Linked DNA regions of Homo sapiens. The protein of the gene in region 2 interacts with the protein of the main gene of each other region in a pairwise test. Each region holds a gene or a part of one and is shown on either strand. Other genes may lie near its edges.

Region 1 (3,500 bases), on a different chromosome or scaffold from region 2:
GGGAGAAGATCTGGATGACGGGGTACGAGGATTACCGGCACGCACCCGTCAGGGGCAAGTACCCGGACCCCTCGGAGGACGCGGACTCCTCCTACGTGCGCTTCGCCAAGGGCGAGGTCCCCAAGCATGACTACAACTACCCCTACGTGGACTCCTCAGACTTTGGCCTAGGCGAGGACCCCAAAGGCCGCGGGGGCAGCGTGATCAAGACGCAGCCCTCCCGGGGCAAGTCGCGGCGGCGGAAGGAGGACGGAGAGCGCTCGCGGTGCGTGTACTGCAGGGACATGTTCAACCACGAGGAGAACCGCCGGGGCCACTGCCAGGACGCGCCCGACTCCGTGAGAACTTGCATCCGCCGGGTGAGCTGCATGTGGTGCGCGGACAGCATGCTCTATCACTGTATGTCGGACCCCGAGGGAGACTATACAGACCCTTGCTCGTGCGATACTAGCGACGAGAAGTTTTGCCTCCGGTGGATGGCTCTTATTGCCTTGTCTTTCCTGGCCCCCTGTATGTGCTGTTACCTGCCCCTTCGGGCCTGCTACCACTGCGGAGTGATGTGCAGGTGCTGTGGCGGGAAGCACAAAGCGGCCGCGTGACTCAGTTTCCCTCCCTTCTCCCTCCATCCGCAGCCACAGGGGAACTCGTCTCTTACATACTCTCATCTTCTCCCCCGCTCCCTTCCACTCCAAGGAGCGAGGAGGGCAAGCGGCCTCCCAGCTCCCTGGTACCTCGAGGCACCATTCCAGCCAGGGACGCTGCCGGGTAGACTCTCCACTCCCCCTGCCGCCCACACTGCAGCAGCCACATCCATACACACACGCTCGCACAGTGTTCTGAGGAAGGAACCTTCGCCACAGACTCCTGTACTATTAACAATCTGTAACCAAGCTAACTGTCTCATCCATGTGTTGATTTCCTGTTTCCTCCTCCCCCGCCTCTTCCAGTTCAAAGGAGTCTGCAATTGGAACTGCTGATTTTCGGTGGGTTTTGTAGTTGATTTTTCCAAGAGCGTCGAAGACTCTCTTTCTCTTGGTTCACCTTGCCTGTCGCTAGCAAGCATCTGGTTCAGCGGAAATGGGATGTGAGAATGATGAAACCCGACAGAAGTATCTCAGCCTGCAGTCAGTTATTATGTATAGGAGGTGAGCTAGTTAACAAACTTGTACCACAAAACAATATCGCTTTAACTTTTCTAAAGCCAAATTTCCCATGTAAGCTGCAGTTTCTATCTTTAGCCCATCATCATTTTCTGCCCCCCCAAAATCTGTTGAAATGATTCACTGATGCAAAACATTCACCCGTAATAGACTGAGAATTGAGCCTTAACTTCAGATTAACTTGTGAGAATCAGGAAAATTCCTTCAACTGCATTGCATCCTCTTGGACCAGGGCTAGAATGGGGATTTCAGGTTTCTATGAGCCTCCCCATTACCCCTAAAGTAGAACATTTTTTAAATTGTGTTGCCACCACTTCTAAAAATTTAGCAATATTAGAATAGGATACTAGTGAAGTAAGAAATTTTGCTTGTTGTTTTGCAAACCAAATAGTTTCCTCAAACACAAATCAGTGTTCCCACGAACAAGTTCCAGTTGAGAAACACTAAGGTTATGGTGAATAAAACCATAGGGAGCTTCTTCCCCCCAACCCCTGGCTATTTTATATTAATGGGGAGAGGGGATTTTTAAATGTCATAAATTTGAAGAGTGGTGGGTTGCATTTTCTTCATGGGTTTATGTTTTCGTTTCATTTTGGACTCAATTTCACATCACCAAATTCCTCATTTATACTTGGGGAAAAAACAAGGCCATATGTAAAAACCCTTCCAATGCCTAAGTGTCTTTCTCCTGCAACTCCAAACCCAGACTCGCCACTTTGGGTGCACAGGTGGTTAGGTCAGCCAACTGGTTCTGCCTGTCGCCTTGCCACGGAGGAGGCTTCTAATTAGCTGGAAAAGAGTATTTTTCTAATACGTTGCAAGGATTAGCCAAATCTTCTTATTGAAGAAAGAAGAAAAGTGAAGAGTGGTTACCTATACCTAGCATAGTACAATCAGAACCTCGTGGAGACCACCGGGGACAGGCTTGCGGACGCCGGCTGTTCTTCCCGCCACGATCTTTCTGTGGTAGCGGCCAGCAGAAGACATGGCCTGCTCCCCACTCCCTTTCCCCACTCCTTCTTTATTGCACACAGGACACCAGTCTTCAAGGAAAGGGACTTTTTTCCAGTCTGCCAATCATATTGGGAAAGTGCTAGCTGTGCTCACCTTCATGGGGCTGTTTCCAGCTCGTCCACAAGCTCATCGATTTTCTTTAGTAGATTACCGGTGTAAATACCCAGTGTGCTTATGAGTCAGTTAGTAGACGTCTTCATTCATTGGAGTAACTGGTTTAGGCTTTCCAGTTTGGAAAAGGAGCAGAGAGCTGTCCATCTGGATTGATGGAAGAAAAGAGAACCTCATCCATGCCTGGAGAACATCTAGAAAACCTTCAGCCAGCCTCCAGTGCTGTCGAGAGACCACCTTCCCCCGACCCGGAGGCACTTCCTTGGGGTCTTTCTCTAGGGTCTCTTCTCTACAAAGCACAACACTAATGTTCGTTTCCTTAGACCTCAGTTCAAGTGCCCCTATTTATTTCAATAAGAACGCACATATCCCAGCTGTTTTTTGTTTGTCACCTCTATTTAGTTGTTACCTGTTTCTCTCTTCTTTCACCCCTTGTCCTTTTCCACCCTTTTAAGAGTTACGCTAGCAGATCTTACTCCACGTATACTTTTTGGTTTGTGAAGGCATCGGTTAAGGGCACAAAGACAGCCATGGGGACATTTATGTAAATACGTCTCTAATTGCCACACTGCAGCTGAACAGTGTGTAGTATTTTCCCAGTCAGCTTTGCCATACTGACGTCAATCATTTGAGAGAAATTATTCAGATTTTATTTTTGTATCTGTGGTAACAAAACATTAACCAAAAGATTTTCTGTCCAGAAGCCTCCCCGACCCCCCAAGCTATTTGCTCACATTAACAAATTAAAGTGCCTGAAGCATAATTCATTCTTTACCTGTATACTAAAAACCCTGTTGTATTGATTTTTTTATAATAAGCCTTTTTACCTCTGTGTAAAAAATATATATACAAGTGTATGATGTACATTTTAGTTCTTAACTTTTTTTTATGGTTTCTAATATGTATGACCAATGTAGCCATTGCTTTAAAATGTACCGTGTAAATATAAACACATCCTATCAGATCGCTGGCTTTGGGGTATTTGTCTGGCAGGAGACGAGGTGATGCTAGAGCGTTGGCAGATCTTGGAGTTCCCGCATACAGGATGGGACAGGGCTTCCTGTGCCGAAGGACATGTGGACACCGGTCTGTTTTTTCAAGGCCCTTTCCTCCTATGGTTATGTCATATTCCCAAGGGGAGACTGCAGCTCCTTGGGCTCGGATGCCTCAGTGAAAGGAAGGCTGCAGGCCACCGCCCAGGAACACCCCCTCTTC
Region 2 (4,249 bases):
ATTGTCAAGGCCTTCCTGTGCAACTCTCTTCAGCCACCAAGGGACCCACAAGGCGGGCAGCCCTCCAAGTGCCCTTCAGCCTCCTGCTCGCCCTCAATTAGCTTGGTAAGCCCTGAGTTTTGTACTTGGGCAGGGAGATAGACCTCCTGACAAGGCTTTCGATGTGCAGACACCCAAAGGATGGAGAAAGGGAGTGGAACAGTCCCAGCATCCCTGAAGCAGATGCAGTGGAGGCAGAAAGGTGGGGCAAACTGGGTCGTTACATGCAATATATGTGCTGGACTGGCCAACAAAATTAGATGTCCCTATTGAGGGCAGGAGCCACACAATAGATGGGGGCAAGAGCTGGGGGTTACAAATGGGTAGGAGGCGTGACCAGTTCATCCTACCTGGGAGGGCCCGTAGAGTCAGCAACACCCAAAGGGGCTGGGGAGGCTGTGGTTCCCCAATGGGGCCGCACGTGTTAGAATCAACTAGGAGCCGGACTAGGGGCCTGGCGCAGTGGCTCAAGCCTGTACTCCCAGCACTCTGGAAGGCTGAGACACGAGGATCGCTTGAGCCCAGGAGTTCCAGACCAGTCTGGGCAACATATGGAGACCCTATCTCTAAAATAAATAAATAAATAAAAATAAAAAAACTATCCAGGCATGGTGGCTCCCACCTATAGTCCCAGCTATTCGGGAGGGTGAGGTGGGAGGGTCGCTTCAGTACAGGAGTTCGAGACCAGCCTGGGCGACATAGTGGGAGGAGGAAGGGAGGGGGAGAAGGAGGGGGAGGGAGAGAAGAAAGAAAATTAGCCGGGCGTGGTGGCGCGCGCCCCTGTTAACAGCTACTCTGGAGGCTGAAGTAGGAGGATCGCTTGAGCTCAGGAGGTCGAGGCTGCAGTGAACCGTGATGGTGTCACTGCATTAGCCTGGGCGACAGAGCGAGACCCCGTCTCAAAAAAGCAAACCAAAAAAAATACAAAAAAATAGACTTAACTGAGGAGTTTTGACGCGCATATGCTCGGGCCCAGTCCCAGATTCTGATGTTATCGGTCTGACTCGCAACGCGCTCACCAAGACACTTCAGAGCTCCCCAGGTGCTTCCCAGCCCAACTCTCCCACCCGAGGGGAGCCTGCGAACCGCAAGTCGGTTCCGGGTTGGGACCTCTTAGAAATCAGATTGGGAGAGGAGGCTATCAATCATAATCATGACCAGTCACCCGCTTTCACGAGAAGGAATGGGCGGGACCCTACGTCCCCGTCCAGAACGCCGTTTCTTTGGCGACGACTTAGGTCCACGCCCCGCCTTTTAGGTGTAGCCGGCCTCTGTTTCTATGATAACCGAAGCCCAAGCCTCTCCCTACACCGCTTTCTCCGCAGCGTCAAAGCGGGACATGACGGGACTACGTTTCCCAGCAGTCCCCGCGCGGGTTCCCGCCTGCGCTTGCTGTGGCCCGGGTCCCTCAGTGCCGCGGCGGCCCGGAGGTGGCGGGAGGACGGCTCCGCGCTGCATGCGGGGCGGGGACCAGGGACCCGTGCGGGCCGCCTCCAGAGAGTAAGTGGCATTCTGCGCGGACCCGCAACCTCGGCCTGCGAGGCGGGGACCTCCCGGCGCATAGCGCGGCCACCACCCCAGTCCCCTCTCCACCTCCGCGCGCGGGGTCCGGGGCAGAGGCGTGACGCCGCGCACTTCCGGTCCTCGCGCTCCGGGTCCGGACCGGCCACACAGCACTCGCGACCTTGAGTTCCGGGCGGGACGGGCTTCTGTAGTTCTGGCCCCCGCGTTTCCGTGCTGGGTGTCATTGAAGCCCGCGAGGGGAGGCTCCAGGCCCGGGACCCATCCTGGCGGCCTGCGGCTCTCGGAGTCAAGCCCACCTGCTAGCCGAGGCCGACGCCGGCCTCCCTACCGTCTCTGCCCCCGCATCCTGGCCTTTGCACTTTGCTCTTTCCTTGTCTGCAGACCGGTTTCATGCCCCCTCTTCACAGAGGCCCGAAGAATCCGCTGCCTCCCTCCCTGGCGCCCTCGCGCTGCTCCCTGTCTGATGTTCTTCACGTCTTTTTCTCTCTTAAACGGTCTCTTGTTCATTTCTTCTTGTCTGCGGTCCCCTCCTTCACTCACTATTAGAGCAGGATGCAGCACCGTTTGGCCCTGACACAGTGGATGTCCTGCGAGGGTTGAAGCTTGCTAATCCTTGAGGGTGGAGGCACTGTCGGGAGGACAGACACAGAAGGGAGCTGTGCCTGCACTCAGAGGACATTTCTTCTGCTGTACAGTGCATGATGCACTGTTCTTCCCATTGCGTGCACAGTGTAGAATTGGACATAGGGGCTAGAGTCTGTGTCCCCTGGGACTGTCAGTGTGGGTGAGGTTGGTCTGTGGCTCAGAGAGGTGGAGCCACGCTGAGCTGGGCACTAGCCTGTGTCCTCCACACCTCAGAGCCACCAACGTTGACTTCCCTGCACATTCTGTTTTTGTTGTTGTTGTTGTTGTTGTTGTTTTGAGACGGAGTTTCGCTCTTGTTGCCCAGGCTGGAGTGCAGTGGCGCGATCTCGGCTCACTGCAACCTCCGCCTCCCGGGTTCAAGCGATTCTCCAGCCTCAGCCTCCCGAGTAGCTGGGATTACAGGCATGCACCACCGTGCCTGGCGACTTCCCTGCACATTCTCTTGGGCAAATAAGACCTCATTGTGCCGTGTGCAACCTCCATGAGGATGTTGAACCTCACTAGCTTTCCTGTGTGTGCTGTTGCTCTGCAGTTCTGCAGGGCTCAGCCTTGGCCACGTTAACCTCTCAGTCCCCCTAAATTGGTAACTCTGCATCCTGTTCCCAACACCAGAAGCCCTAAGGACAACTAGAAAGGCTGGGCGAGCACCCAGGTGCAAGCATGCTCACCTGGGGCAGGTGGGAGGTCACTGTAAGAACAGCCTGGGAGAGCTGTAATGCACCATCAAGGACGGGCTCCTGGGACCTGGGACCCAGAGCCTCGATTGTGTTTGCTGTGCTCAGCCTCAGATCATGGGTCCATGGCTGGAATGCCACCCACCTACAGGTGGGATAGTTGGACAGTGCATCCTGGGAGCAGATCAAGGAGACGAAGAGACTCGGCCATGGTCCACAGCTCCCACCTGCTGTGTCTGGTGCTGGGAGGCAGGTTCTTGTTGCAGCAGAGGAGCCACCCCTGGGAGCAGGGCATCTGGGGACCAATCCGAAGATGCTGTTAGCACATGGCTAGCAGGTGCCCCTCAGCCCCCACCTCCCACAAGTTCAGGGTCCCTTTCTGCCAAGTGGGGACTGCTGGTTCTTCAGGACAACCCAGCTTCCCCAACCCTCTGTTCAGACACTAAGCAGTCCTCTGACTCCCCATCACTAGGGATCAGGAGAGCCCCTTACAACACACACATTCTGTCGAGGGTGCTAGACCAGTCTCTATTAGTTTCTGTGGCTGCTATAACACACTACCACAAACTGGGCAGTTTAAAACAACAGAAATTTACTCTCACAGTCCTGGAAGCCAGAAGTCTGAAATCAAGGTGTCAGCAGTACTGTGCTCTCTGACGGCTCTGGGTGGGGGTCTTTCCTTGCCTCTTCCGGCTTCTGGCGGCTCCGGGTGTTCCTTGGAGTGTGGCTGCATCACTCCAATATCAGCCTCCATCTTCACATGGACCACTCTTCTCCGTGTCAGAACTCCCTTTGCCTCCTTCATAAGGACACCTGTCATTGGAATTAGGGCACACCCAGGTTATTCAGGGTGATCTCATCACAAGATCCTTAATTATGTCTGCAAAGACCTAATAAGGTCACATTCTGAGAGTTCCGGGGTTAGGACATTGGATATATCTTTTGCAGCCTCCTTCAGTGGAACCTGCCTGATCCTGGGTGACCTCATGTGCCCATCCATTCTTGGGCCTGTCCACTGATTCCATGGTGATCAATTGTCCCTGTTTGGCCAGGCTGTCCCAGGTATGGTCTTTCACCCTGGGAAGTCCTCAGCCCCTAAGTCCCTAGAGTTCTAGGAAGTCATGCTGAGTGCTGGTCCTAGCCCTGCTCATGCCACCAGCTGTTGTACAGACTGTGACATGAAGCCAGCAGCCTTGGAGCTAATAGCAAGGCAGGTGCCCAAGTCCCTCCATCCCTGACATCTGGGTCTCTGTGACCTGGAGTTGTGTCAGAGAGGTCCAGATCCTGGCTGTGGGGCTTCTGGGATGGCACATTGTGAAAGCGGGGCCCCTGACCTCCTGCTGCTCAGCATCCATAGTGGCATGCTC
Region 3 (3,500 bases), on a different chromosome or scaffold from region 2:
GTAAACAAAATAGACAAAGGCCCTAATGTCATGGATTTCACATTCTAATAGAGGAGATAGAAAATAAACCTGCAGGCCGGGTACAGTGGCTCATGCCTGTAATCCCAGCACTTTGGGAGGCTGAGGCGGATGGATCACTTGAGGTCAGGAGCTTGAGACCAGCCTGGCCAACATGGCAAAACCCCATCTCTACTAAAAGTATAAAAATTAGCTGGGTGTGGTGGCACGTGCTTGTAGTCCCAGCTACTCGGGAGGCCGAGGCACAAGAATTGCTTGAACCCGGGAGGTGGAGCCAAAATTGTACCACTGCACTCCAGCCTGGGCAACAGAGCAAGACTTTGTCTCAAAAAAAAAAAAAGAAAAAAAACCAAAACCCTGCAAATCAACAGATGTGTAACATTGGGCAGTGGTAAGTGAAGGGATAGTGAGTGATTATGGGGAATGGGGTGCTAGTATTTCAGGCCAGGGTTAGGAAGGCTTCTGTAAGGAGGTGACATTTTTTTTCTTTTTACTTTTCTTTTTATTTTTTATTTTTATTTATTTATTATGAGGTGGAGTCTCACTCTTGTCGCCCAGGCTAGAGTGCAGTGTCACAATCTCGGCTCACTGCAACCTCCGCCTCCTGGGTTCAAGGTATTCTACTGCCTCAGCCTCCTGAGTAGCTGGGATTACAGGTGCCCGCCCCCATGCCTGGCTAATTTTTTTTTTTTTTTGTATTTTTAGTAGAGATGGGGTTTCACCACGTTGGCCAGGTTGGTTTCAAACTCCTGACCTCAAGTGATCCGCCCACCTCAGCCTCCCAAAATGCTGGGATTACAGGCATGAGCCACCGTGCCTGGCCTTTTTCTTTTTTAAAAAGAGACAGTCTCACTGTGTCACTAAGGTGGAGTGCAGTAGCATGATCACAGCTCACTGCAACCTCAAAGTCCTGGGCTTAAGCAATCCTCTTGCCTCAGTCTCCTGAGTAGCTGAGACTACAGGCATGTTCCACCATATCCGGCTAATTTAAAAGAAATTTTTTCGGCCAGGTGCTGTGGCTCACGCCTGTAATCCCAGCACTTTGGGAGGCTGAGGCGGGTGGATCATGAGGTCAGGAGTTTCAGACCAGCCTGACCAACATGGTGAAACCCCATCTGTACTAAAAATACAAAAATTAGCCAGGCATGGTGGCGTGCACCTGTAATCCCAGCTACTCAGGAGGCTGAGGCAGGAGAATCACGTGAACCTGGGAGGCGGAAGTTGCAGTGAGCCGAGATCGCACCACTGCGCTCCAGCCTGGCGACAGAGCAAGACTCAGTCTCAAAAAAAAAAAAAAAAAAAAAAAAAAATTCTAGAGACAAGGTCTCACTATGTTACCCAGGCTGGTCTCAAACTCCTGACCTCAAGCAGTCCTCCCACCTTGGCCTGAGCACCAGAATGAAGGGGAGAGTAAGGCAGTGGATCTTTGGGAAAGGAGTGTTCCAGGAAGAACAGAGATGCTTCTGGTTATTTTAGGAGGTCATGAAACTCTCAAAAATTGTCAAAACAGTTAGTCTTAATTTATCATAACCAAAAAGAAATTATACCTTACCTTATGGAAATAATAAAATTTAGCATCGTATTTTGATAAAATGTTACAACTCCAAAATGATCGGGAGTCTGTGGATAAGCCCATGCCTGTACCATGGCACCAGCTGTTATCTGGCTAAATATTTTGTAATCTATGTTGTAAAACTTCCTCTTCTGAAACTTCCCCTCAAAGTTGAACAAACACAAATTAGAACAACATGAGAGTGATTTAAGAAACATGGTTTCAGATTTACAAAAATACGTGGTAGCTCGTGGTAGCTCAGGGTTCATCCCCATCCTTCAACATCCCTCTTGAAATCAGAATGGGATTATTTTTATATTTTTCTTCCAATTCCTTATTGTGTATAGAGAATGGATACTGTTTTGAAAGCAAAATGTTGGAAACTGAGCATGATGCTAAGATGCCTTTATAAAAACATGAAGATGCCAGGTGCGGTGGCTCATGCCTGTAATCCCAGCACTTTGGGAGACTGGGGTGGGTGGATCATGAGGTCAGGAGTTTGAGACCAGCCTGGCCAAGATGGTGAAACCCCGTCTCTACTAAAAATACAAAAAAATTAGCTGGGCATGGTGGCAGGTGCCTGTAATCCCAGCTACTTGGGAGGCTGAGGCAGGAGAATCACTTGAACCTGGGAGGCGGAGGTTGCAGTGAGCCAAGATCACACCACTGCACTCTAGCCTGGGCAACAGAGCAAGACTCCATCTCAAACAAACAAACAAACAGCATGAAGAAACACTGGGGTATAAATAAGATTTAAATAGTAATAGTATGAGTTCCCATTTTGTTGGGTTATGAACTTTTCTTTTTATTAAAGTTGGCCCTATCACTAATAGATAATTTCCAAAATACCACACATTTAATGGCTTAAAACAACACAAATTTATTATTTTACAGTTCTGTAGGTCAGAAGTCCCAAACAGGCTACGTCTGGTAGCTGATGCCTATAATCCCAGCATTTTGGGAGGCCGAGGTGGGAGAATCACTTGAGGCCAGGAGTTCGACACCAGCCTGGTCAACATAGAAAGACCACACTCCACAAAAAAAAGTTTAAAAATTAGCAGGTGTAGTAGTGTGCACCTGTAGTCCCAGCTACTTGAGAAGCTGATGCAGGAGCACTGCAGCCTGAGCAATAAAGCAAGACCCTCTCTCTGTGGGAAAAAAAGTCCCAAATAAATTTCAGTGGGCTAAAGCCAGGGTGTTGGCAGGGTGCGTTCCTTCTGGAGGTTCAGTGGGAAGACTCTACTCCTTTGCCTTTTCTAGCTCCAGAGGCTACTGCATTCCTTGGCTCATGGCCCCCTCCCCATCTTCAAAGCCAACGATGGCTGAGTCTTTCTCACATCATATCACTCTAACATTTACCTTCTCGTCTCCCTCTTTCATGTATAAGGACTCTTATGAGTACACTGGACTCACTTGGATAATCCAGAGTACTCTCCCATCTCAAAATCCTTAATCTCATCACATCTGCAAAGTTCCTTTTGCCATGTGTTCACAGCTTCTGGGAATTGGCATGTGGACATCATATTCTGCCTACCACAAGTATTAATAGAACAGAACTTGTCACTGCCAACCCAGAGTCACTCTGCCCTCCTTGGAAGCCTGTATCATCAATCACAGTACAAACATGATTTAGGTTTTGCCTTAGATACTGTCATGTTAATGAAATTTCAGAATAGCAAAGAAAGTTGTTTTGAGAAATATTTTTTCAAAGCAAACATTCTTCTCAATAAAATTTTTTTTTTACTTCCTATACTCTTGCTTATAACTTGCCACTTTAATTTTTTTTTTTTTTTTTTTTTTTACTGCCGTTGAGGCAGAAAGGAAAATGAAGCTCTTAGGAAGCTCAATTTAAATTCTCAGTTGATCACATTAAGGAGCAAATAATTGAAGTTACAGGACTCTTCTAGTCATTCTTTTTGGAAAGAAATTA
Region 4 (3,500 bases), on a different chromosome or scaffold from region 2:
TTTACACAAGTATGTGGAATCAACAGCTATGAAGTACCTCCTTGTTGGATGGCTGATGGGCAGATGGGAGCTCATCAGACAACCCCCCTTCCCCCATCTCTCTTCTCAGCCTCTGTGTCCAGATGTTTGACTGGTTTGACTACCATGGCCACATGTGTATCTCCTTTGAGCTTCTGGGCCTTAGCACCTTCGATTTCCTCAAAGACAACAACTACCTGCCCTACCCCATCCACCAAGTGCGCCACATGGCCTTCCAGCTGTGCCAGGCTGTCAAGTGTGAGTGGGGTGGGCCGAAGTGGACTCTGGGGCAGTCCCTCCCTTCATTGGATCTCTCTGTCGGTTGTGCACTGGTGAAGCCCCTAAACAGTCAGCTGTCTGTTATCTGCAGTTCTTTGATTTACTGTCATCTTGAAACGTCTTCTGACTTAACTCCTTGACTGATGTCTTTATCGTCACTGATTGCTCTTACTCTACACCTAGCCTAGCAGCAGCTAGAAGAGAAAGCCTTTGGAATCAAAGCACTTAATTACCCTCCCCTTTTCCTTTCTCCCTTTCTTGGGAAAGCATCAGTCAGACAGCAAACATAAAGAGACAAAAATACACTCCTTAGGGTAAAGGCTTACATTTGTCTGGGATGAGATGTTCATTCACAGCAAAGGAGATGGGAACACAGAGTATGTAGTTCAGCTAAGGGGCAAGGTGGGGAATTCAAAGAAATATATCATTCCTCTGGAGTCATCAAAATAATACAGTTTCACAGAATTGAGTTAACATAATGCCAGCTAGACACATGTCAAAGTGTGTACACACTACAACTCAAAGCAAACTTTTTTTTTTTTACATCAGTTGAGCTACATATGTATCTTACATTAGAAAGAGCAGAGCTTCTTAGACCAGGCATTCCATTTAGACGTAGAGCAGAAAGCAGCCCTAGTGATTCTGGACCTGTCTCCTCACTGGCTTTGCCCTAGGTAACCAGGCCTGGGGTCAGCTGATACCAGTTAGCTCTGGCCACCTGCACCAAGCCTGACCTGGCCTTCTCCCCTACAGTCCTCCATGATAACAAGCTGACACATACAGACCTCAAGCCTGAAAATATTCTGTTTGTGAATTCAGACTATGAGCTCACCTACAACCTAGAGAAGGTAAGATGGATAGGGTCTGCCCTTGGTTACTGGGGGCAGGCAGCTGCACCACTTTGCCTTCTGCCGAGCCCTTTGTTTTCTCCCTTTTATTTCGTCCTCCCACATTTTCTCCCTGTCTGGCTCCAACTGGGTAAAACTAAATAGGTTGAAAGGGAGAAATCTCTTAAGAAGACTTAAATTGGGAGATAACTTGTACAGGGGACTTCAGATAACTTTCCAGTAGAGTGAAAGTTTTTAAGGTTCTTGGTTTGGACTTTATTTATTTATTTATTTATTTATTTATTTATTTATTTGAGACAGAGTCTCACTCTGTTGCCCAGACTGATGTGCAGTGGCATAATCTCGGCTCACTGCAACCTCTACCTCCCAGGTTTAAGTGATTCTCCTGCCTCAGCCTCTGGAGTAGCTGGGATTACAGGCACCCGCCACCACGCCTGGCTAGTTTTTGTGTTTTTAGTAGAGATGGGGTTTTGCCATGTTGGCCAGGCTGGTCTCGAACCCCTAACCTCAGGTGATCTGCCTGTCTCGGGCTCCCAGAATGCTGGGATTACGGGTGTGAGCCACAGTGCCTGGCCCGGACTTCTTTTTTGAGATGTGTATTTCTGTGAGGTAGGAAAGCTCGGCTCCTTTGACTAACTGGAGATAATGGAGATCTCAGACCTAAAGAAGCTCTCCCTCCTTTGACCCCTTTGCTACATGTTACATATTTTTAGAGAAACTCCTTTGCTACATGTTACATTTTTTCAGAAAAACCCATTTGCTACATGTTACATTTTTTCAGAAAAACCCATTTGCTACATGTTACATGTTTTCAGAATAACTATATATCTGGCACTTGAGTGTAGTCTTCAGATGCTTACAGATGTGCACGCTGTTCTATAATCATTTCTTAATCCTTTTGCTCCCCTACTTCTAAAAGTATTATGCTGGATGTGGTGGAAGCTGTAAAACAGGAATTTCCCAGGGCTTGTAAGGCCAGGCAGGAGATCACAGTACCTTTTTTAAGGCTCAGAAGCAATGTAGAGAATACTGGTGGAATCTCAGTCTGGGTGCAGAGGTTCATCCTCTTTCTCCTCTGCTCCTAGAAGCGAGATGAGCGCAGTGTGAAGAGCACAGCTGTGCGGGTGGTAGACTTTGGCAGTGCCACCTTTGACCATGAGCACCATAGCACCATTGTCTCCACTCGCCATTACCGAGCACCAGAAGTCATCCTTGGTAAGGGAGGGCAAGGCTGTCCAAGTGTGTGAGATGATGTGAGGGTGGGGCCACCTAAGCCTCATAACACCTTTTCCCTCCCATTCTCACCCAGAGTTGGGCTGGTCACAGCCTTGTGATGTGTGGAGTATAGGCTGCATCATCTTTGAATACTATGTGGGATTCACCCTCTTCCAGGTAAGTGATGGGATGTCTTACTTGACTGCCTGGCATTCTTCTACCTGGTTCCTTTGTTTTCTGCTGAGGACCTGCCTACTCAGTTCTCCACATTGCCTGCCTTCCTGGCAGCTGATCCTTAGCATGCCCTTTTCAGTCCCATGCTCAGTTCTGTTTTTGTTTCCCAGACCCATGACAACAGAGAGCATCTAGCCATGATGGAAAGGATCTTGGGTCCTATCCCTTCCCGGATGATCCGAAAGACAAGGTGAACCTTGAGGGGGCACTAGTTAACTCTTTTCCTTTTCTCTCCACAGAATTGGTCTATTTCACATCATTTTCTTTTTTCTTTGATACCTCCTCTCCCCCCAGTTACTTTCAGATGGGGAAATAAGGGAATTGTAACAAGGGTGACCTTCTGATTCCTCAACCTCCCCTTCCCCTCTAGAAAGCAGAAATATTTTTACCGGGGTCGCCTGGATTGGGATGAGAACACATCAGCTGGGCGCTATGTTCGTGAGAACTGCAAACCGCTGCGGGTGAGCTGGGCTCGGGATAAATAGTGCCCACCGTCCAGAAGTCACTTCCTTCTTAGGGTGGTTTGCCCCCTGGAATGCTCTTCACAAGCAGAGGGTTAGGAAAGGAGGGGAGGAAAGCTGAAAGAAGACATCTTTGGTCAACAGAGGAAACATAAGAGGGAGTGGTTTTGTGGAGGGAAGGAGGTTAGACAGCCTAACCTTGAGACAACCAGAGATCAAAGCAATGTCCTGGATTCTTTAGGTCAGACAGAAAAGAATAAACTACCTTTGAAGAGCTTACATTTTAATGAGGAACTAAAGAAGATTCATGAAGTTGACAAGGATATACAAGTAGAAAGAACTTTCAAAGATTATGGAGTAATTGTGCTAGTGGGAAGGTAGGTTGAGCTATAATATCAGAAACGTTGGTCCTGGTGTGGTCGTGGTTAGGTAGCCTTCAAATTGG
Region 5 (3,500 bases), on a different chromosome or scaffold from region 2:
CTCAGAATTATCTAATTGACTAGAGGAATCATTTAATCAAAAGCGGCTATCAGATTGATACACAGTGATGCCTTAGTGGCCCTGAGGTATGTTGGAGTTTGAGAACCTTCTCTAAATGGCACTTTCATTTAAATTTCATATGTGGGCTGTTCTTTTTGGTTTGCTTTCTTCTGTCTTTGTAATTGGTCAGCTGTTCTTGGAAGCAAAACAACCAACCAGCCTTATTAGAACTGCATATAAAGTAAGAGAAGTTCATCCTGATTGTTGAATGTAGATGCTTGGGTTTTGATGCTTGGGTTTTACAATATTTATTTTGTTTTCTCAGAGTATTTTTTGCTTAATCTTTGATTATCAGCTGTCTTGTTGAGGTTTCCTGATAAGTAATTTAATGAGTATTTGTTAAATGCCCATTTTTCTGCCAGGTATTGCACAAAGCTCTGGGTATATAATGAAACCCAAAATGAAACACACATAGTTTCTGCCCTCATGGAGTTTACAGCTAATAGACAAATTTTATCTGATAAAGTTGCACTGAAGGAAATGGATGAGATCCTGTGATTGAAAATAATGTGATTAGGAAGAACCTCTCTGAGGAAGCTAACATTTAGGAAGGATGAGAGTCCTGTCAGGAGCCCCTGGATCTGGAGAACAGCAGGTGCCAAGACTCCAAGCCAAAACAAGCTTGACTTGCCTGAGGAACTGAAAGGATACCTCTATATTATGGCTAGAATATAGTGAACAAAGGGGATAATGTCTTGAAATGAGGTTGGAGGGTTCAGTAGGGGCCAGAAAGGATTGTAAAGGAATTAGAATGAAATTTAGAAGGTTATAGAAGCAGCTTCCATAAGACATGATAGTGGCCCCAGCTAGGGTGTTGATCTCTAGATTAAAGGAGTTATTACAGTTCTGTGTGTAAACCATCAAATTTCACAGCTTTTCCTATGAGGTATGGAAATACATAGCAGTGGCCACTTTTGCTGTCTAATTCCTCAGTTCTTATGTTTGTTTTGGTCTGTTTATTTTTTAATTTTAGCTTTGTGTAGGCTGAGGTTAAATAACTGGCTACCCTTACTGTTCACTGGGAGTGATTTTGATGGCATACCTGCACTTTCTGTTCTGCTGCTGGGGCAGCTAGTATGCCAAGAGAATAGCACATGCCAGAAGTAGAGAGTGTTTCCCACAAGATCATAGATTTTGAAGTGGGAACCCTCGTAAATGTGATATCCTTTAGCTGTAAGGTGTGTAGTATGTGACAGCCCTCAGTACATGATTCATTAGATTTGAGGAAAAAAATTGTGTTTTTTATATCTTACATTTAAAACTCAGTTGCATCCGTAGGAGCTGAAATGTTCTCACAGTGTCCCTGAAGAATAATTTTTTTGTTCTTAAGCTTTTTTTCTCTCCCACTATCTACTTAGGATAGAGTTGGTTGGACTTGAAGGTAACCTAACTTTGTTATTTTGATTGATAAAAAAAGTGAATGTACTATATATAGTGAGCTTCCTGCAAGAACTTCTTGTTTTATTCTCTTTGATCTTGCATTGTAGTCATAATGTGGGCCTTGGTTAGTTCAGTGGTGGAGTTCCTATGTACCCAGTCTCCTTTCTTGGTCTTTTCTAAACTGCTCAATTATAAATGTTACTTGAAATGAGTATTTTTGTTAGTCTATATTGTAAATCAATTCAACCATATATTTTGCTTAAATGAACATAATTTAGCATCATTATTTTGCTCTTAAGATTTATAGAAGTATGAAGAATATTCTAAAATATGTATAAATCAGATATACAAAAATCTTTTTTCTGTAGTTCAGAAAATTTAAAAGTTGTTAAGTTAGATCAGCTGCATCCCTATATCGCCAGAAGTTAGTTATACTGTGCATTTTCATCAGTATACACTTATATAGCTTTCACTGCTTAACAACATATTTAATCTGTTAATAATGGAAATTATAACCTTAATAATTAAAAATTGATAAAATGCTAATGCTAGATTATTATAAGACTATGTATAATGGTGAGGTTTATGATAGAGTAAATTTAACACATGCTTTGGAGAATTAAGTCTTTGATTTCACTAGTTTCCTGAATGAGATTAAACTTTCATAAAACCAGATGAACTCAAATATTGTTCAGAATGTGGTTACAGAGTTAAGATTTTTAGAATTATTCTGAAACCCAAATATACGTCTCCAACTCCAGGGTCTCTGTATCTTTTGTATAAATAGAGTATACTTTCAATTAGATCCCATCCTCCTTGAGCTACATTGATATTCAGACGTATGTTGAATCAACCAGATAAACTTAAAGCATGATTTATATGCATCAAAGCCTGTTAATTTTTTTCCATAGTTATGACTTTATCTCCAAAACTAGCTAAAAATTTGAGTTCATTGAGCTCAAAGTTCAACATTAGGAAATAAGCACTCTCTTCATGTGCCATCTGCATAACCAATATGTTCAGTTTGAAATTTCTAGTTCATATGCTCATAGGTCTTGTCATATCTGTAGGAACATAAAAATTCTCTGTATCTATAGATTTGTACAGGTGGAATGTCTCAGAATCCAGAATATCCAAAATGGAATTCATAATCTACACCCCAAATCAGCTTCAACGGCAGCCTTCCATTCTCAGTTGATGGCAGATCGAGGACCCTGTTTGTTTAGATCAAAAACTTTTTGATGTATTCTTGATTTTCCTCTTTCTCTTTCACTACATCCATTCTGTCTTGACATCTTGGCTCTGTCTTCAAAATTTGGCCCTATTTTGCCACCTACACGACTGGAGTGAATTGCCAGTCTCCCTTCTGCCTTACGCTTAATGTATTTCTTAAGTCAGTTATGGTGGCATGTACCTATAATCCCAGCTACACGGGAGGCTGAGGCAGAAAGATCACTTGAGCCCAGGAGTTTGAGACTACACTGGGCAACATAGCAAGAATCCATCTAAATTACAAAAAATATATATATATTTTTTTCTTCCCCCTGTCTCCACCTTTCCACCTTTGCCTCTCCTCTTATACAACCATTTTGGTACATCTGCTATAGTGATCCTTTTAAAACATAAGTCAGTTCAAGTCTTTTCTCTGTATCAGGCCCCTCAAAGGTTCCCCATCTCCTTCAGAGTCCTTTTAATGTTCTACCAGACCCTCCCTGATCTGGCCCATCATTACTTGTCTGGTGATCTCAGTTTCTGCTTACTATTGGCTTCAGTTTATTTTGATTTCTAATTATCGATGGCTTTACTACATCTTGACTTCAATTTAAGCCCTCTCTCTGTCAGCTCTGCATGTTACCATCTATTTGTCTTATGTTCAGATACCTCAAGAGAGAGCTGATTGAGTTAGTTAATGTTATCTAAGTTAGGCAGGACTGTTTGGCCTTGCCATTCCATGTGCTGCTACCCAGCCCAGGGATTAGCTGTTCTTAAAGCAGATGCCCACTTGTGATCTAATTAGCCAAAGTATAGGGAGTTCCTAGTTAGGCATGCGGAGTAACAGA
Region 6 (3,500 bases), on a different chromosome or scaffold from region 2:
TGAGAACATAGACTTGGAAATAAGCCTTGACTTGTATAGTTACCCTACTTTTTATCACAATCAAGTAACCTTCCTAACTTCTCAAAAAGTGGCTAGAAAGTTTTAGTTTTCTTAAAGAACACAGTGATAATCTTTCACTTACCATCTGCAAAATGCTGAACATCAAGCACAAAACAATTCTTCCCTTCCAGAATGTAGTCATGTAGACTACAGTGTTAATGGCAATTCTGTGACTTATTTTCAGGGGTTTAGCATTTTCATTTAGCTGATTAAAATCTGTTGTAGATGATAATTATGCCGGTTTTTAAAATCATTCAAACACTCAAAAATGATTTTAAAATCTTTAAATGGCTTGTAGCAGATTTTTATTTCTCAAAGGGTTTCTTTGAGAAAATTATGGAAGCAAATTATGGAAAATTTGCTTAAATTATACACCTTTGTCATATTCTCAGTAAATGTTAAATCAATGTAAAATGAGTGGATTTGTATTTCTAAAAATAACCTTTTTCACAGGAAGAAGAACTAAGGAAGAGTGGGGAAGCCAAATATGCCCACTTGAGTGATGAGCTTCATGTATTAATTGAAGTGTTTGCTCCACCTGGGGAAGCTTATTCACGTATGAGTCATGCATTGGAAGAGATTAAAAAATTCCTGGTTCCTGTAAGTGTCTTTCATTTTTTACAAAGATGTTTCTTATCAGCTTCTATTTTAAAATGCACCTTTGATCTTCACTGACTTTTTAAAAGGAAACTCATATTGCAAACCAATGATCTATCCACAGGTCGATACAAAGCTAAAAAATAAAATAGGATACCAAAACCACTTAACACAGGACCTGGCGTGTTGCCATATAGTGATGGTTCCATAGCAATGTTTGTCATGCTGGTGTCATGCCATGCATCGGTTCATAGTCATGAAGAAAAAGACATGTTTATAAACAGAAATATATAATTGAAGTTGTATACTTTTTTATTGCATCTCCATCACTTGAAAGTTTATCGTTTGCAATTTACAATTAATAGGGAAATTATTTCCTGGTGTAGTGGAAAGGGAAAGAGATCAGATATGTAATAATTTGAAATAAGACAATGATATCATTTAAACATATCCAATGTATTTTCATGTGATGGCATGCCAGGTGTTGCCTCATAATAAAACATAATATAAAATCATCAATATTAGTAAAGCCAGACATCTGTTGACTTTAAACAAAAATTGGAAAAATAAACTCACTCTACCATGTGAGGGCAACAGAGAATGTTTATTTAGTAGGGCAACAAATTCAGGGTTGCATACTGGTAGAATTCTCTACTGATTTTCTAAGAAATAGAGGAAGGTTAAATGAATGAAGCTTTCCTAAAGATTGACAATTTAGCATTCTAGGAAGAAGTCATTCAAATAGAAATCTTGGCATCAGGCTTGGAGCTGGGAATAAGACAATTAGAAGAGAATGCTGAGTACAGTTTTCTGGAGCGTCTGGCAGAGTCTTCAACAGAGAAAGCACACAGCTAAGATAGATCTGCACAATGAAGAAACTGCAGATTTCTAAATAAGCAATAAACTAAGAGGAAATGGTGGGTAAGGTTCATTGATTGGCAGTGATTTTAAGAATGGGAAAAGAAAAATAAAACCAGAGAATTTCAAGAATTTAAAAGCATCAAGATCTAGTCACATAATCTATTTATATGTCCAGTTTAAAAATTAATTTCTGTCAAGGCAAGGTTATAGAATAATTGCAGACCGTTCTGATTATTCTTAACTTCATATGCACACTGAATTTCTGCACAATTTATTATCTGATGCTCATCTGAACATCTCCCTAACTAGATCTCATATTTATTAAGAATGAGGATGCTACGTTTTATTTTCCTTTTGCCTCCAAACTAAATGCCTAGTGCTGTATTGAGTAAGGAATTTTACTGTATTTAGTTCAGACCAGACCTCTGATAGCATACATAGTATAAAAATGAGACTAGGACTGTACATTACTAACATACTACATGACTTCAAGTCATTTAAATTCTCAAAGCTTCAGTTTATTCATCTTTAAAATGAAGATAATTATCATTGACCAGCCTCTATCACAGTTATGATGAATATTAAATGGGGTAATGCATATGAAAGGACTTAGAAAATTATAAAGCAGAATATTAATGGATGGTTTAAATATATTGTAGAAAATATAATAGAAATATCAAGGGATGATTTTCTGCATAGTTATTAATTGATATGTATATCTACACACATATGTATATATACATATATGTATATCCTACTCTGTAGGCTAAGTTAACACTCCTCTATTAGAAATGTCAGTAATACATCTCGCTTGCTCACTTCCTAGACAGAATGATTCTTGTAAGTATTTCATTTATATACTCTCCACTGAAATATATACTGTGTGAGGATAGGGCTGGCTGGCAGTATCTCCTTTGGCCAACACTGTATCCCCATCTTAGCATCATGCCTAGCACAATAAATATTTACTTGATAGTTTGACTGATGGAATGATGGAATGGCTGCCTATAGGCATGAGGAGTGGTGCAGGGGATAAAATAGCTATCCAGGTAAAATTTGGGGGCTAATACCCCACAGTCAAGATGCACCATATATACAGACTCAGATGAAGAATGAAAATATTACCATGGCTGGTGTGACCTGGCCATGCCTACCTCTATGATTTCATCTTGTATGTCTAACTTCTTATTCATTGCACTTCAGACATGCTGGTTTTTGTTCATTCAACAGTCCAGGCTCACTGCTCATTAAGCACCTTTGAAGATTATTCTCCAAAGTGTTGACATGGCTGTTTCCTTAGCATCCAGCTGTCAGCTTAAAGGTTAGCTTTGTAGAAAACTCTTCCCCAACCACACAATCTAAAGTAGCTGCCCCCTTTACCTTCTATCATGCAGTCTTACTATATTTTGAACGTAGTATCACTAACCACTCTATTTAACATTATAATTCATTGTTCCATTATACCTTAGTCCTTTTCACTTATTTTCCGCATAGCTCCTATCACCTTCAGATGTTTTATATCTCTCTGTGTGTGTGTGTGTGTGTGTGTGTGTGCATCTTGCTTATCTTTGATTTCTGTGCTAGAATATGAATGTCATGAGGGCTATTCTGATATGTCTCTCAATGTTTTATTAGTAAATTTTCCCATCAATGAAAGTCATAAATTTATCCCATTTGCCTTGCTTGCATCAGCAGAAAGCAAAGAATGGGAGAACCGCAAGGGGCAAAAATGAACTGCCAATTTTTTTTATTCTATGAAATGACTTGGTGATCTAAGGTTCTTTTGATATTTTATATTAAAGCCCACAGAAATGCTAAAGTTTCTATACATTAACATTTGCAAACATTGTAGATGAAGAATTCTAGGCAGTAAGAGACATGCTAGAACAACAAAGAAGGCTTATATAGGGCAAGACTCTGGAATTCCACTGACATCTTGTTCTTCTGCGAAAGGGATTAATTTTCCATGGTAGGACTTTTTA
Region 7 (4,146 bases), about 13 Mb from region 2:
TTAGGTTGGCAGATTCGTCTCTCGCCTTTGGAATTTCTACCTTCTCCTAGGTTTTGTTTTTTAAAATCAGGCCTATGATACCGCTCATGGGCTCATATTTATTTTAGCATTGTAATTTAAGTTGTATTTTATGCAACTCTACCCCGATACAGAGAGCTGTTGATGTAACTGCAGCGAGCAAATGGAGGACTAGAGACTAGCGAAGGGGCCGAGACTTCGTCTCCAGAGTATCCCTGTCAGCATCCATCAACTGCACTCATATATTGAATGCAGCTCCTATCCGCCTTTCTTTTCGACTTCTTCATGCCGTTACCACTCTTCATCAGTTAGTCTAGCCTCAATGTTTTCATTTATTTCCTTTGTTTTTTTTGGGGGGGGGGGAACGGAGTCTTGCTCTGTCGCCCAGGCTGGAGTGCAGTGGCACGATCTCGGCTCACTAAAAGCTCCGCCTCCCGGGTTCACACCATTCTCGTGCCTCAGGCTCCCGAGTAGCTGGGACTACAGGCGCCCGCCACCACGCCCGGCTAATTTTTTGTATTTTTAGTAGAGACGGGGTTTCACCGTGTTAGCCAGGATGGTCTCGATCTCCTAACCTCGTGATCCGCCCGTGTCGGCCTTCCAAAGTGCTGGGATTACAGGCGTGAGCCACCGCGCCCGGCCCATTTCTTTCCTTTCGTTGAGACAGGGTCTGGCTCTGTCTACCAGGTCGGAGTGCAGGGGCGCGATCATAGCTCAGTGCAGCCTCAACCTACCGGGCTCAAGCGATCTTCCCACCTCCCAAGTAGCTGGAACTACAGGCTCCTGTAACCAGACCCTGCTAATTTTTAAATTTTTTGTAAAGACGGGGCCTTGCTATGTTGCCCAGGCTGGTCTCGAACTCCTGGACTCAAGCGATCTTCCCGCCTCAGCCTTCCAAAGTGCTGGGATTATAGGCGTGTGCCGCCGCGCCCCGCCAGGTGTTTTCAGTTCTATGCACTCCATTCCCTGGGCTCTTGACGAATGTGCGGGAGCTGAATATTCGTTATTTGGACTCCGGCAGGAAGGCGTGGGCTCAGCTTCGCGCTTGCGCGCTGCTCTTGGAGACGGCGTCTACTTCGCCCCGCCCCTCATAGTCTGCAGTTCCGGCTCTGCAGATTCGCTGCTCACGTTTCTTTTTTCCGTGGCCCTTCCTGCCCTTTGTTTCTCTCTTCATGTCACCCGCGGGACAACTCTACGTGCAAGTCGCTGAAATCGATTTTCTGCTTCTTATAGTAAGCGGCGGGCTCGCCAGCCTCGAGCGAAAGTGTGACTGCGAACGGGCAGGCGCGCGCGGGGCTCGGCGGAGGCGCGCTTGGGCTCCCGGCGGCGACGACTACGACCACTAGGAGAGCGGACGGAGGCGGCGCCTGAAGCGGCGGCGGAGCCCATGCCCCGGGACGGCGGGCGGACCCGGAGAGACAAATCCGGGGCCCGGGGCATGTCCCCGGGGCCCCCGTGAGGAGGCGGCGGCGGCTATGGAGATCGCGCCGCAGGAGGCGCCGCCCGTGCCGGGCGCGGACGGCGACATTGAAGAGGCCCCAGCTGAGGCCGGGTCTCCCAGCCCCGCGTCGCCCCCCGCCGATGGGCGCCTCAAGGCTGCAGCCAAGCGCGTCACATTCCCGTCCGACGAGGATATCGTGTCTGGAGCAGTGGAGCCCAAAGACCCCTGGAGACATGGTAGCTACCGCGGGTGAAGCGGGGGCGGGCTCGAGAGGGACCCGGGAGTCGGGAGGGATCGGTGCAGGGCCCGGCTCGAGGTGGCGTTCAATAGATTGCACCTAATGGTGAATAAGGGGACAGTCGTCAGTTTAGAACCGTAGTCTGTTAGAAAGGGGGTGGCTATGGAGTTGGGAAGGTGAAAAGTATCTGGTTTCTGCCGCACCCCACCCACCCGAGACAAAGATGGTGATCGTTTTAGGGTTTAAAACGATGAGCAATTAAAGAAAGTTTGGTGTTTTGTCAGATGTAGAGTGTGGCAGCCTTTGCGTTCGTAGTTCCACCAGAGAAGGAGAGAAGGAGCAGTTGAGAGGAGGAGCGGGTCAACACTGGGCCTGAAAGGGCAGTTGAAAGAGTTTGATGGGTCTATGGGGGTAAAAAGAGGTTAAGTTGCTGGTCTGCAAGCCTTGGGGCAAGGAGTGGTCGTGTTGGCCACTTTCTTGGCTGGAAAGAGGGAGACTATAAACTTGGACTGTGGCTATAGAGGACTTGGTAAAAAGGAGTCAAGATAAGGTCCCAGAAGAGGAGCAGAGGTGGTGGTCAATTTGTGGTTGGGTGAGGGAGAAAGAGGCAGTGTGGTTTTTATGTTTTCTTTTTTATTGAGACAAGGTCTCACTACATTGCCCAGGCTGGTCTCGGACTTCTGGGTTCAAGCTGTCCTCCCTCCTTGGCCTCCCAGAGTGTTGGGATTACAGGTGTGAGCCACCGCCGCCTGCTGCAATGTGGTATTAAGAAGAAAAGCCAACGCCTACCGCCGCCTCCTCCTCCAAAAAAAAGAGAAGCAGAAGGAAGGCTGTCAGTCATTCAGGAGCAGAGGATGTTTGGGACATGGCTACGGAAGGGTCCTCTTGTTCCTTCCTGAGAAAGAATTGGGGGATGGCCGGGTGCATTGGCTCAGGCGTGTAATCCCAGCACTTTGGGAGGCCAAGGTGGGTGGATCACCTGAGGTCAGGAGTTTAAAACCAGCCTGGCCAACATGGGGAAACCCCGTCTCTACTAAAAATACAGAAATTGGCCGGGCATAGTGGTGCACACCTGTAATCCCATCTACTCAAGAGGCTGAGGCAGGGAGAATCGTTTGAACCCGGGAGGTGGAGGTTGCAGTGAGCTAAGATCACGACATTGTACTCCAGCCTGGGTGACAAGAGCAAAACTCCGGCTCAAAGAAAAAAAAAAAAAGAATTGGGGGATGTTATCAAGTCAGAAATTGGAGTTGCTGGCCAGTAGCAGGTGAGAGAGATGAAAAAGTTGGCTACTTGAAGTGTTGGGAGAGAGGGCCAGCGCACTGGAGAGGGTCAGGTCAGTGTTGGAGCTGAAAGGAGTGTGTTGGAGCCATAGGGCTGGGAAAGTGGAAAGTCGCTTGGGACATGCAGGGCAGTGTTGAGTCCATTTTGTGCTGGAGAAGTCTGTCAGTTCTCCTGGGGTGGAGCCCATGAAGTGAGGGATCAGACTGGCTGTGGTGGCCGTGGTTCTGTAGAAGCTGATCTGCCGGCCCTGGGCAAGGGGAGAAACTATTGCCAGTCTGTGGACAATGGAGGAATTGGTGGCTTTGATGTGAGGGTGGGAAACATGGTAACTGGAAACTGAACACACAGGGAGTCCATCATGAATGACAGTTTGGCTACTTATTATAATTTTTTAGACGGAGTCTCCCTCTGTCGCCCAGGCCAATTCTCCTGCCTCAGCCTCCTCAGTATCTGGGATTACAGGCACCTGTCATCACACCTGGCTAAAAATGTTTGTATTTTTAGTAGAGTTGGGGGTTTCACCATGTTGGCCAGGCTGGTCTCGAACTCCCGACCTCAGGTGATCTGCCCACTTAAGCCTTCCAAAGTGCTGGGATTACCGGCATGAGCCACCGTGCCCGGCTGGCTAGTTATTCTTAAAGAGGCAGTGGTTAAATTAAGACTTTTGGGCCGGACGCCATGGTTCATGCCTGCAACCCCAGCACTTTGTCAGGCCAAGGTGGGCAGATCACCTGAGCCCAGGAGTTCAAGACCAGCTTGGGCAACAAGGTGAAACCGCGTCTCTGCAAAATATACGAAAATTAGCCAGGTGTGGTGGTGCACGCCTGTAGTCCCAGCAACTCAGGAGGCTGAAGTGGGAGGATCATTTGAGCCCAGGAGGTCGATAGTGCAGTGAACTGTGATTGCGCCACTGAACTCCAGCTTGGGTGACAGAGACCCGGTCTTAAAAAAAAAAAAAAAAAAAAGAGTTTTGGCACTAGGAGCCAGCCAAGTCCTTGGGCTCTAGGCCCCAGGGATAGGTGGTTAGTTTGGGACCCGGGCACAGTCAGAATGCCCCCTGGCTATTGCGTGATATCCAGTCCAGAGCAGGAAGGGGAAAGACCTGGAGAGGCAGAGCAGGGTGTTTCAAGAGCAGAGGCTCCAGGTCAGATCCTTTGAGACCTCG

What was found.
Region 1: the proteins of ZNF837 (region 2) and SPRED2 interact in binary tests that used the Homo sapiens proteins (3 or more experiments, as listed by UniProt).
Region 3: the proteins of ZNF837 (region 2) and CCDC125 interact in binary tests that used the Homo sapiens proteins (3 or more experiments, as listed by UniProt).
Region 4: the proteins of ZNF837 (region 2) and CLK2 interact in binary tests that used the Homo sapiens proteins (3 or more experiments, as listed by UniProt).
Region 5: the proteins of ZNF837 (region 2) and CHIC2 interact in binary tests that used the Homo sapiens proteins (3 or more experiments, as listed by UniProt).
Region 6: the proteins of ZNF837 (region 2) and KHDRBS2 interact in binary tests that used the Homo sapiens proteins (3 or more experiments, as listed by UniProt).
Region 7: the proteins of ZNF837 (region 2) and PPP1R37 interact in binary tests that used the Homo sapiens proteins (3 or more experiments, as listed by UniProt).

Annotation. Positions count from the first base shown.
Region 1 is NC_000002.12:65,310,600-65,314,099, reverse strand, and holds the end of SPRED2 (sprouty-related, EVH1 domain-containing protein 2), read left to right. Parts: coding exon 1-599; 3' UTR 600-3,249; downstream 3,250-3,500. UniProt on the Homo sapiens protein: Negatively regulates Ras signaling pathways and downstream activation of MAP kinases. Recruits and translocates NF1 to the cell membrane, thereby enabling NF1-dependent hydrolysis of active GTP-bound Ras to inactive GDP-bound Ras.
Region 2 is NC_000019.10:58,378,231-58,382,479, reverse strand, and holds the start of ZNF837 (zinc finger protein 837), read left to right. Parts: upstream 1-1,449; 5' UTR 1,450-1,539; intron 1,540-3,454; exon of another isoform or gene 3,455-3,695; intron 3,696-4,249. UniProt on the Homo sapiens protein: May be involved in transcriptional regulation.
Region 3 is NC_000005.10:69,315,802-69,319,301, reverse strand, and holds part of CCDC125 (coiled-coil domain-containing protein 125), read left to right. Parts: intron 1-3,500. UniProt on the Homo sapiens protein: May be involved in the regulation of cell migration.
Region 4 is NC_000001.11:155,263,505-155,267,004, reverse strand, and holds part of CLK2 (dual specificity protein kinase CLK2), read left to right. Parts: intron 1-109; coding exon 110-276; intron 277-1,050; coding exon 1,051-1,145; intron 1,146-2,230; coding exon 2,231-2,360; intron 2,361-2,454; coding exon 2,455-2,537; intron 2,538-2,704; coding exon 2,705-2,784; intron 2,785-2,964; coding exon 2,965-3,055; intron 3,056-3,296; coding exon of another isoform or gene 3,297-3,326; exon of another isoform or gene 3,327-3,349; intron 3,350-3,500. UniProt on the Homo sapiens protein: Dual specificity kinase acting on both serine/threonine and tyrosine-containing substrates. Phosphorylates serine- and arginine-rich (SR) proteins of the spliceosomal complex.
Region 5 is NC_000004.12:54,054,606-54,058,105, reverse strand, and holds part of CHIC2 (cysteine-rich hydrophobic domain-containing protein 2), read left to right. Parts: intron 1-3,500.
Region 6 is NC_000006.12:61,975,226-61,978,725, reverse strand, and holds part of KHDRBS2 (KH domain-containing, RNA-binding, signal transduction-associated protein 2), read left to right. Parts: intron 1-513; coding exon 514-660; intron 661-3,500. UniProt on the Homo sapiens protein: RNA-binding protein that plays a role in the regulation of alternative splicing and influences mRNA splice site selection and exon inclusion. Binds both poly(A) and poly(U) homopolymers. Phosphorylation by PTK6 inhibits its RNA-binding ability.
Region 7 is NC_000019.10:45,091,833-45,095,978, forward strand, and holds the start of PPP1R37 (protein phosphatase 1 regulatory subunit 37), read left to right. Parts: upstream 1-1,346; 5' UTR 1,347-1,493; coding exon 1,494-1,695; intron 1,696-4,146. UniProt on the Homo sapiens protein: Inhibits phosphatase activity of protein phosphatase 1 (PP1) complexes.